Linked DNA regions of Homo sapiens: region 2 is linked to region 1. The links come from fine-mapping of genetic effects on gene expression. A gene starts in region 1. The other region holds a variant in brackets. All regions are shown on one strand. Distances are between the middles of the regions.

Region 1 (4,354 bases):
CCCCTGGGTTGAGGAGGAATCAAAAGTGTAATTGAGCTTCCTTGGAAGAGGGACTCATTGGGGATCCCACAGGAAAAGCTGGCAACAGCAAGTCAACTGCAAGGCTATGGGGTAGCATAGGTTCTAACAGGTGCACAGTCTCAGTCAGCCTCCCCTCAGAGGCAAGACAACTCGCTGGGCACCATCTGGGGACCCTGACTTCTCAGAGTAGCTACTTTGCTTTTGCCCCAGTTCTTTAATCAATAATCCACACTAAGAATGAACACAATGTGTAAGCATCTGACTTGTGCAGGGAAACAGGGCCGCCTGCAACCCAACAAGCGCACCCACAGGGGAACTCGGGACCATCCTAAGCCACTTGTTCTCTGGGACGTGGAAGCAGGAACTGTGCTCTAGCCGTATCTGTGTTGCGTCGTCTGAGTCCTCTTTTTCTACAATGAAGAAAGGGGACTTGGGATTTAAACTTGGAGCGGTACTCAAAGCCAGAACTCCACGTTCATTCCGGAGTGAACCACCACACTACTATTTCCAGGCAACGTCATAAGGCTTCCTCGTTATTTGCATCTTCGTTCTCTTTTTGGCGACTAGCCTGCCCTCCCGCCCTTGGAAACTTGTGGACCCCAGAATCTCAGCTTTCCGCCTACCAAAGGTGCCCCGATCCCCTCCCACTGCCCTAGCAGCGGCCCAGCCCCAACGCCTTTGGCTAGAGATTGAAATCCTCTGGAACCAACCACTGGACGCTCTGGATTGGGGCGGAACGCGCTTCCACTGTCTCGAAAGCAGCACCTTCTCGGATTTGAGCCTTTGCGGCGCGCCTGGGCTGAGATCTGAGAAATGCGCCCTGGGCCACAGGCAGCAGCGGAGGCGGGGAAGGAACAACTTTCCCTCCGCCCTCTAACCACAAGGGCGGGGTGGGGCGGCCTCGCTGGGGTCGGGCTCCTCCACTTTCCCAGCTGGGATCCCCTGCCGGAGCTGGCGTGGGGGCCGGGGAGGGGGACCAGAGGGGCTTCCTTCTCTCCCCAAGCCCCGCCAGATGTTGGAAAGGCAAACAATAGGGGAAACGCGGAGAAACAAAAGGCCATTCGCCACGATCTCAGTCGGCTGCGTAGAGAGATCTCTGTGGGGAGGGTTAGGGGAGAGGGTCAGGAAAGAGCGCGAGGGGGGGGATCCCGAGAGATTTAGAGTCTCTGGTACTTGCCAGGCACCAGGGGTCGGCGCTTTACCCTCCCAGCAGGGGTCTGAAGGTGGGAAGGGGCAATCAAAGAAAACTTGAAGGGTTTTCACCTTCTTCCCCAGTTCAGGGAAAGGGAGGGGCTGGGATTCCAGATGTTTGACAGTTGTTGGCCCCAAAGTTAAGCGCGATTTGTACGGCCTTTACACGCTCCCCACCTCCGTGAGGCATCGTCAGCCCCGGGGGCGACCTGGCTGACGGTGCGGACTTCCCCTACGCTGCCCCAAGCCGAGACTCCTCCCTCAGGATCAGGACGCCCAAGCGTTGTCCCCCAGCCCAGGCGCACTTTTGTAAAAGTTTGTCTTCCCGCCACCCACAGCCCAACACGCACCCTGCAGGCGTCCGCGGCTGGGGATGGGCTCGGAGTCTTGCACCCCGAAAGAAGGACGATCTTATTGATTTATATCTTTTCAAATCAAGGACAAATCAAGATCCCGGGGTGGAAAGTGGGCGACCCTTGTTCCTGCCGGGAAGTGCACACGAGGAGCCGGCCAGAAACCCAGGCGCCGGCAGGGGTCTGAAGAGGACTCCAGCCCCGGAAGCCCGTGGCCGGCGGGCAGAAGACCGGTCCGCCGCCTCCCGCACCTTCTTGCACCCGCGCCCAGGTGCGCCCCAAACCTCGCCGCCCGCCCGGGCGAGATCGGGAGCGAGCAGCCACCGGGCTGCGCCGCCTCCCCTAGCTTGGAGCGGGTTCTTACTCACCGTGGGGTTTTACCTCCAGCCCAGGGCCCGGTCGGCTCCCTTCGCCGGGTCAGCTGCAGCCAGCGCGAAAGAAAATGGTGAGCTCGGGGCAGGTGGGGCGTCGCTTGCCAATCCACGCAAGGGACTCTGCCGCCGGTGCGCGAGGTCCCGGCGAGCCAACCGGCGGACGGGCGAGCGCCTGGCTCCAGCTGCAGCCGCCGTCGCTCCGGAGCAGCCCCCTCATGCACCCAGCGCGCCGCGCAGCCGGCCGGGGCTCGACTGTCTCGCGGGGACGCCGAGCGGGGACCCCTGGCGGCCGCCTGCGGTATGGCAGCACCGTGGAGAGAAAAGTCGTCTTTGGGATCATCTTCCCTCCGGAAAGAGATGGGACATGACCAGTCTAAGGGGGCTTCCAGCCTTGCAGAAAAGACACTGGGCCAGGGCAGTGAAGAAGGTGTCAGATCAGAAAGGATGATCTCTGGGTCCACAACGGCCACTTCCAAGGCACCTAGAGAGGGGGAAACAGTTTGCCTTCCCCAGGATTTTCTGATTGTTGAAAAATACCATGAACTGCCTGACACAGAGCGGAGCATAAATCATTGGAAAATACTCAGATTCTAGTGGATTTACTAGAACACACTGGGAGTCATGGATGAACCTGGATTTTAAAGCTCAACCCACAGCCCGCCACTCTCTACTTGTGTGGTCTTGGTCTATCTACAACCTTAAAGCCTCAGTATTCTCCTCCGTAAATTGGCGGGGAGCAATATCACCCTTGCAGGGTGATGGTTACGGGTAAACTACATTTGAAACGTTTTTATAGTTTATAGTAACAGAAATCAAATATGAGCTTCCTGCCTTCTGGAGAAAAAGAATTGGATCTTTCACATTTTTCTATTACCCATATGATCACATCTTAATGCATATTGATTGAACTGTACCAAATGACGAAGTACTGCATTTTACCATTCTTACTACACACTTCAAAGAGGTGTGGAAATATATTAAGTAGAAATTAGGATATATAGAGAAAACATCCCTCCTCCAAAAGAGGTTTCTGCAACTAACTACGAAGTGAGAACTTCTAAAATCACTTACATCTTTTGCAATATCATCTCAGATATTGTAAGAAACATTTAATAAATAGTCATGACTTAATGATATCAACCCTGGATTAAATGACTCTAATTCTGTGTCACTTTTGTGTAATGTAAAGATACCGATTGTGAATATAAGACTCAAATATGGGAAAACTGCCAGATACAAAAATACAGCCGCTAAGCAATATTTCTGTTCATCACCGAGGAATCTCATTTCCAAAGTGCCCCAGTTTTTAAGAGGAAGAACACCAGAGTCAGACAGACCCATAGCAGCTGAGTCTAACCTTTCTGAAGCTCTGTTACCTCATCTTATAAAATGAGGATAATATAGGTAGCTGTCATTCAATGAAGGAATGCATACAACATGCTTAGCATAACACCTGTCACATGGTAAGTGCTCCAGGGTCACCACCTATCATTGTTTCCAGCATACAGTTATCACCCCACCGACATGTAGCCCCTCCCTCATGAGCTCAAGAGCCCCCAGCACGTGTTCTACTCACACACGCACAAGCTTCAGTGTCCCTTAAGATGTTATCTCCTGGAAAGTAGGAACAGAAAGAGAATATTTTCAGGTAGTTTGGAACAGAATGAATAACATTCACATTCCTTGCCCAAGTCAGTACAGATTAATTTCCATCATTTCCAACTCATACTTTATACATTTCCCATAAGAGGAAAATCATGCTGGTTTTCAGTAGCATATGAAAAAAAAAAAATTCCAAGAGGATTCTTTTGCCAAGCCACTTCATTACAGCTTCCCCTTAGAGGATACCAAAGAAGCACAGGGATATTGGAAAGGTGTCACCATAGCAACATTGTAATAGACAGATGACAATAGAGTAAAAGCGAAGAAAGCACATTTGCATAGTCATTGACAAACTTGGACCTACAGTCATATTGCTCTGGGCAGCAGTGCTCAGAGTCCAAGGGCTACTCAAAGTAAATTTGGTAAGAGGCTATTTCTATTCATTTTGGCTGAGTCTGACTACCCAGTTCATTGTGCTCATGTGTGTGCTAATTGTAATTGTTACAGGCAGTTCACTAACAAACAGCAGACATCCTCAAGAGTCCCTTTCATCCTAAGCAATGTGAGTTCACAAATCTAAATGTGTACCTAATAAATCTTCAATAGTAAAGCGTACTTCCTCCTTACCTGCTTCTGTTTTGTTTTCAAAACCTTAAATAGTCACAGGTATAGAGAAATTGTCTCAATGCTTATGGGAGCTTCTGTGATAACTTATGTTAATTAACTCTGGGTACTGAAAAGAAACAAACGTGCATGGCTTCCCCTAAGCACTGAGGTAATGGCAATTCAAATAACAGCAAATTTATATATGTG
Region 2 (4,386 bases), 63 kb before region 1:
CTGCATAGGAGGAAAGAAAGAAAGAAAATGCTTCATTCTTGCTTAATTTGGGTGGACTTCTAATTCTCAGGCAAAAAGAAATAATATTAACCTCAGTGATTTGATAATGAGTTAACAATATTCCCCAACATTTATAACACACTTACCCTAATATTTTGAGGGAGTTCCAGTATTTTTTTGCATATAATAAATCTAATGCAATATGGCTTATTTCATGAATTTGGGCAAATTATATCCACCATGCCCTCCCACTAATCCCTCAAACACTTTTCAGAATAGCATATAAATACTCTACATTTAACACATTACATTCCTGGTTATAATCCAGTTACAACCTCTGTATTCTGATAACAGAAATGACTTTCTAAACTGTTTAAAAAGTTATTTTTTATATTAGCTCATTTTCATGCTGCTGATAAAGACATACCTGAAAATGGGAACAAAAAGAGGTTTAATTGGACTTACAGTTCCACATGGCTGGGGAGGCCTCAGAATCATGGCGGGAGGTGGAAGACACTTCTTACATGGCAGCAGCAAGAGAAAAATGAGGAAGAAGCAAAAAAAGAGACCCCTGATAAACCCATCAGATCTCGTGAGACTTATTCACTATCACGAGAATAGCATGGGAAAGACTGGCCCCCATGATTCAATTATCTCCCCCTGGGTCCCTGCCATAGCATGTGAGAACTCTGGGAGATATAATTCAAGTTGAGATTTGGGTGGGGACACAGCCAAACCATATCATTCTGCCCCTGGCCCCTCCAAATCTCACGACCTCACATTTCAAAACCAATCATGCCTTCCCAACAGTCACCCAAAGTCTTAACTCATTTCAGCATTAACCCAAAAGTCCATAGTCCAAAGTCTCATCTGAGACAAGGCAAGTCCCTTCCACCTATAAGCCTGCAAAGTCAACAGCAAGCTAGTTAATTCCTAGACACAATGTGCGTACAGGTATTGGGTAAATACAGCTGTTCCAAATGGGAGAAATTGGCCAAAACAAAGGGGTTACAGGGCCCATGCAAGTCCGAAATCCAGCAGGGCAGTCAAATTTTAAAGCTCCAAAATGATCTCCTTTGACTCCAGGTCTGACATCCAGGTCATGCTGCTGCAAGAAGTGGGTTCCCATTATTTTGGGAAGCTCCACCCCTGTGGCTTTGCAGGGTACAGCCTCCCTGCTGGCTGCTTTCATGGGCTGGCATTAAGTGTGTGTGGCTTTTCCAGGTGCACAGTGCAAGCTGTCAGTGGATCTACCATTCTGGGGTCTGGAAGACGATGGCCCTCTTCTTACAGCTCCACCAAGCAGTGCCCCAGTAGGGACTCTGTGTGGGGGCTCCAACCCCACATTTCCCTTCTGCACTGCCCTAGCGGAGGTTCTCCATGAGGGTCCCGCCCCTGCAGCAAACTTTTGCCTGGGTATCCAGGCATGTCCACACATCTTCTGAAATCTAGGGGGAGGTTTCCAAACCTCAATTCTTGACTTCTGTGCACCCACAGGCTCAACACCACGTGGAAACTGCCAAGGCCTGGGGCTTCCACCCTCTGAAGCCACACCCTGAGCTCTACGTTGGCCCTTTCGGCCACAGCTGGAATGGCTGGGACACAGGGCACCAAGTTCCTAGGCTGCATACAGCACGGGGATCCTGGGACCGGCCCACAAAACCACTTTTTCCTGCTGGGCCTCTGGGCCTGTGATGGGTGGGGCAGCCATGAAGATCTCTGACATGGCCTGGAGACATTTTCCCCATGGTCTTAGGGATTAACATTAGGCTCCTTGCTCCTTATGCAGCCGACTTGAATTTCTCCTCAAAAAATGGGTTTTTCTTTTCTACTGCATCGTCAGGCTGCAAATTTTCTGAACTTTTACGCTCTGTTTCTCTTTTAAAACAGAATGCATTTAACAGCACCCAAGTTACCTTCTGAAAGCTTTGCTGCTTAGAAATTTCTTCCGCCAGTTACCCTAAATCATCTCTCTCAAGTTCAAAGTTCCACAAATCTCTAGGGCCACCAGTCTCTTTGCTAAAATATAACAAGAGTCACCTTTGCTCCAGTTCCCAACAAGTTCCTCATCTCCATCTGAGACCACTTCAGCCTGGACCTTATTGTTCACATCACTATCAGCATTTTTGTCAAAGCCATTCAACAAGTCTTTAGGAGGTTCCAAACTTTCCCACATTTTCCTGTCTTCTGAACCCTTCACATTGTTCCAACCTCTGCCTGTTACCCAGTTCCAAAGTCACTTCCACATTTTCGGGTATCTTTTCAGCAACGCCTCACTCTACTGGTACCAATTTACTATATTTGTCCATTTTCATGCTGCTGATAAAAACATACCCAAAACTGGGAAGAAAAAAGGGGTTTAATTGGACTTAGAGTTCCACATGGTTGGGGAGGCCTCAGAATCATAGTGGGAGGCAGAAGGCACTTCTTATACGGC[A/G]GCAGCAAGAGAAAATGAGGAAGAAGCAAAAGCAGAAACCCCTGATAAACCCATCAGATCTCGTGAGACTTATTCACTATCACAAGAATAGCACGGGAAAGACCGGCCCTTATGATTCAATTATCTCCCCTTGGGTCCGTCCTACAATATGTGGGAATTTTGGGAGATAAAATTCAAGTTGAGATTTGGGTGGGGACACAGCCAAACCATATCATTCCTGTTATCATTCCTGTTATCAGAATCCAGAGATCCTGCCAGAAGGATTAAGTCTGCATTTCTAGAAACTCTCAAGAGAGAACAGACAACCATCTAGCTAGATGATTTCTCATTTTTCTACATGAAAAACAGGTACACAAAGCAGGTAACCCTGAGATAAAATTGAGACAAATAATTAATGATTCTACCCACTCTATTCTCTCAAACATGCCAATAACAAGTTAAAAAAAAAGTTTGAAATGAAATTGAGTCAGACATGTAATTGCAAACCATGTATCCTCCTCAAAGACTGAAAAGAGGTCTACCTTTAGAGCCAGAAAGATGCAGGTCTGAGTCCAGACTCTGCCCCTTGACCAGTTACCCTTGTGGGCTAAATGCTTTCTCTTTGTGCTTTAATTTCTTTCTTTGTTGTTAGGGTGCTAATACCAATATCACAGTGGGTTTTGGGGATAAGTGAGATAATATAAGTAAAGATAGGTAAATGTCAAGTGTTAAATTTATTAATCTGGATTTCTCCTATGATCAGATTTCAGGTGGTGTGATGATCAATAGGAGTCCCAACCATAATGTGCTCTTTCTTTGACTTCTTCCCCACAAGACCTAAGCACATGACCCTCAAAAAGTGTAAAATCTTGAGGCACCTCAGAGGGAAGCACCATTTCCCCACTCGTGGTTTGGATGAGGAAGAATTTTCCCTATGCATCCTACTATCCTCTCTATGTCCTTTTACTAACATCGCCCCAGGGCAAGTGGAGGGATGGATTCACTTAGTTGGCAAACCGCACATGCTCAGCTGGCTCAGCCTGACCTTTTTTCCTCCTGCGAAGTGCCTGCTTTCAAGTGTGCTACCTGCTGCTTCCCCAGCTTTCTGCCTTTATGAATGGAATTGGTCTGCTCTCACCAGTGCTACATGGGAAAGGGTGGGCAAATCCAGAGTTTAGAGTTAACAGGCCCATTGGTTAACAGTCTGGCTTCCATAAGAAACAAAGTTGATTTTTGTTTTTGTTGTTGTATTGTTACTATCAACTTCTTTGAAGCCACATAGGGAAGAGTGGTGTGACTTGTTTATTAGGGCTCTATTGGAGAACTAACATTGTTAAGTTGTGCAGAGTGGCTTGGCTATGCAAAGTTAGCTGTTTTTGTTAGCAGAGACTCTTCGTGACATTAGTTCAACAAGAACTCTGTTTAAGACATAACTTACTCATCTGCAGAAAGTCTGTCTACACACCAGAAATGCATAGCCTTCTCAAGAGATTTCTCAGCTAAGAAAGAAAACCTAGTCATAGGGTGCATTTGTACCAGTTACTGCTCAGTGGCAGACACACAGAGACAGACTGCTCAGAACAGAGTCCCCCATCATCTATGAAGTGCTTCTGAATCCTCCACAATTGACAGTGAGCTTTAGGCCTGACAGTCCCATGCCCCTGTATGTGGCTACTGTCTGGGAACATGATTATCAGAAGCTTTCTCCAGGGAACTGAAAAACTTTCTATCCACTCAGATAAGGCCTCTCCCTTGCCCAGCCTCGATTTCCTCAAACTTCTCTCTGGCTTAACTTCAACTCCTGGTAAAGCAGAGGGAACAAGGTACCAAAAGAAGGAGCAAGAAGGACGGGATGGCTGGTCATCGTGTGCACCTTGCATGCACATCTCTGATGCGAATGCCCCAGGACCACATACTGTGCTGTATTTCTTTGCTCACATGTCTGGCCCCTCCATCAGTTTATGAGGGTT

Direction of the effects. Alleles are on the strand shown, and positions count from the first base shown. SD is a standard deviation of normalised expression in the study named.
As copies of G replace A in region 2, the expression in monocytes after Pam3CSK4 of the gene that starts at base 2,193 in region 1 goes down (large effect, 1.0 SD a copy in Quach 2016).

The links. PIP is the estimated chance that this variant, and not a neighbour inherited with it, causes the effect.
Region 2: its variant is fine-mapped to the expression of MOB3B in monocytes after Pam3CSK4 (Quach 2016, PIP 0.95). The same link has a PIP of 0.9 or more in monocytes, monocytes after LPS and monocytes after R848.

The regions. Positions count from the first base shown.
Region 1 is chr9:27,527,622-27,531,975 of GRCh38, forward strand. MOB3B (MOB kinase activator 3B) reads right to left here and starts at 2,193. Exons shown (of 4, transcript NM_024761.5): 1 at 1,934-2,193. It overlaps LOC124902107 (dapper homolog 3-like), which reads left to right and starts at 835. Exons shown (of 2, transcript XM_047424279.1): 1 at 835-1,105; 2 at 1,399-3,079. The coding sequence starts at 835. The coding sequence ends at 2,387. RefSeq lists silencers at 921-970, 1,941-2,240.
Region 2 is chr9:27,464,249-27,468,634 of GRCh38, forward strand. The region is part of intron 1 of MOB3B (MOB kinase activator 3B); the gene reads right to left. Among named protein-coding and RNA genes, the nearest start is that of IFNK, 58 kb to the right of the region's middle. RefSeq lists an enhancer at 1,001-1,502. The variant A/G (reference allele first, on the strand shown) is at 2,438.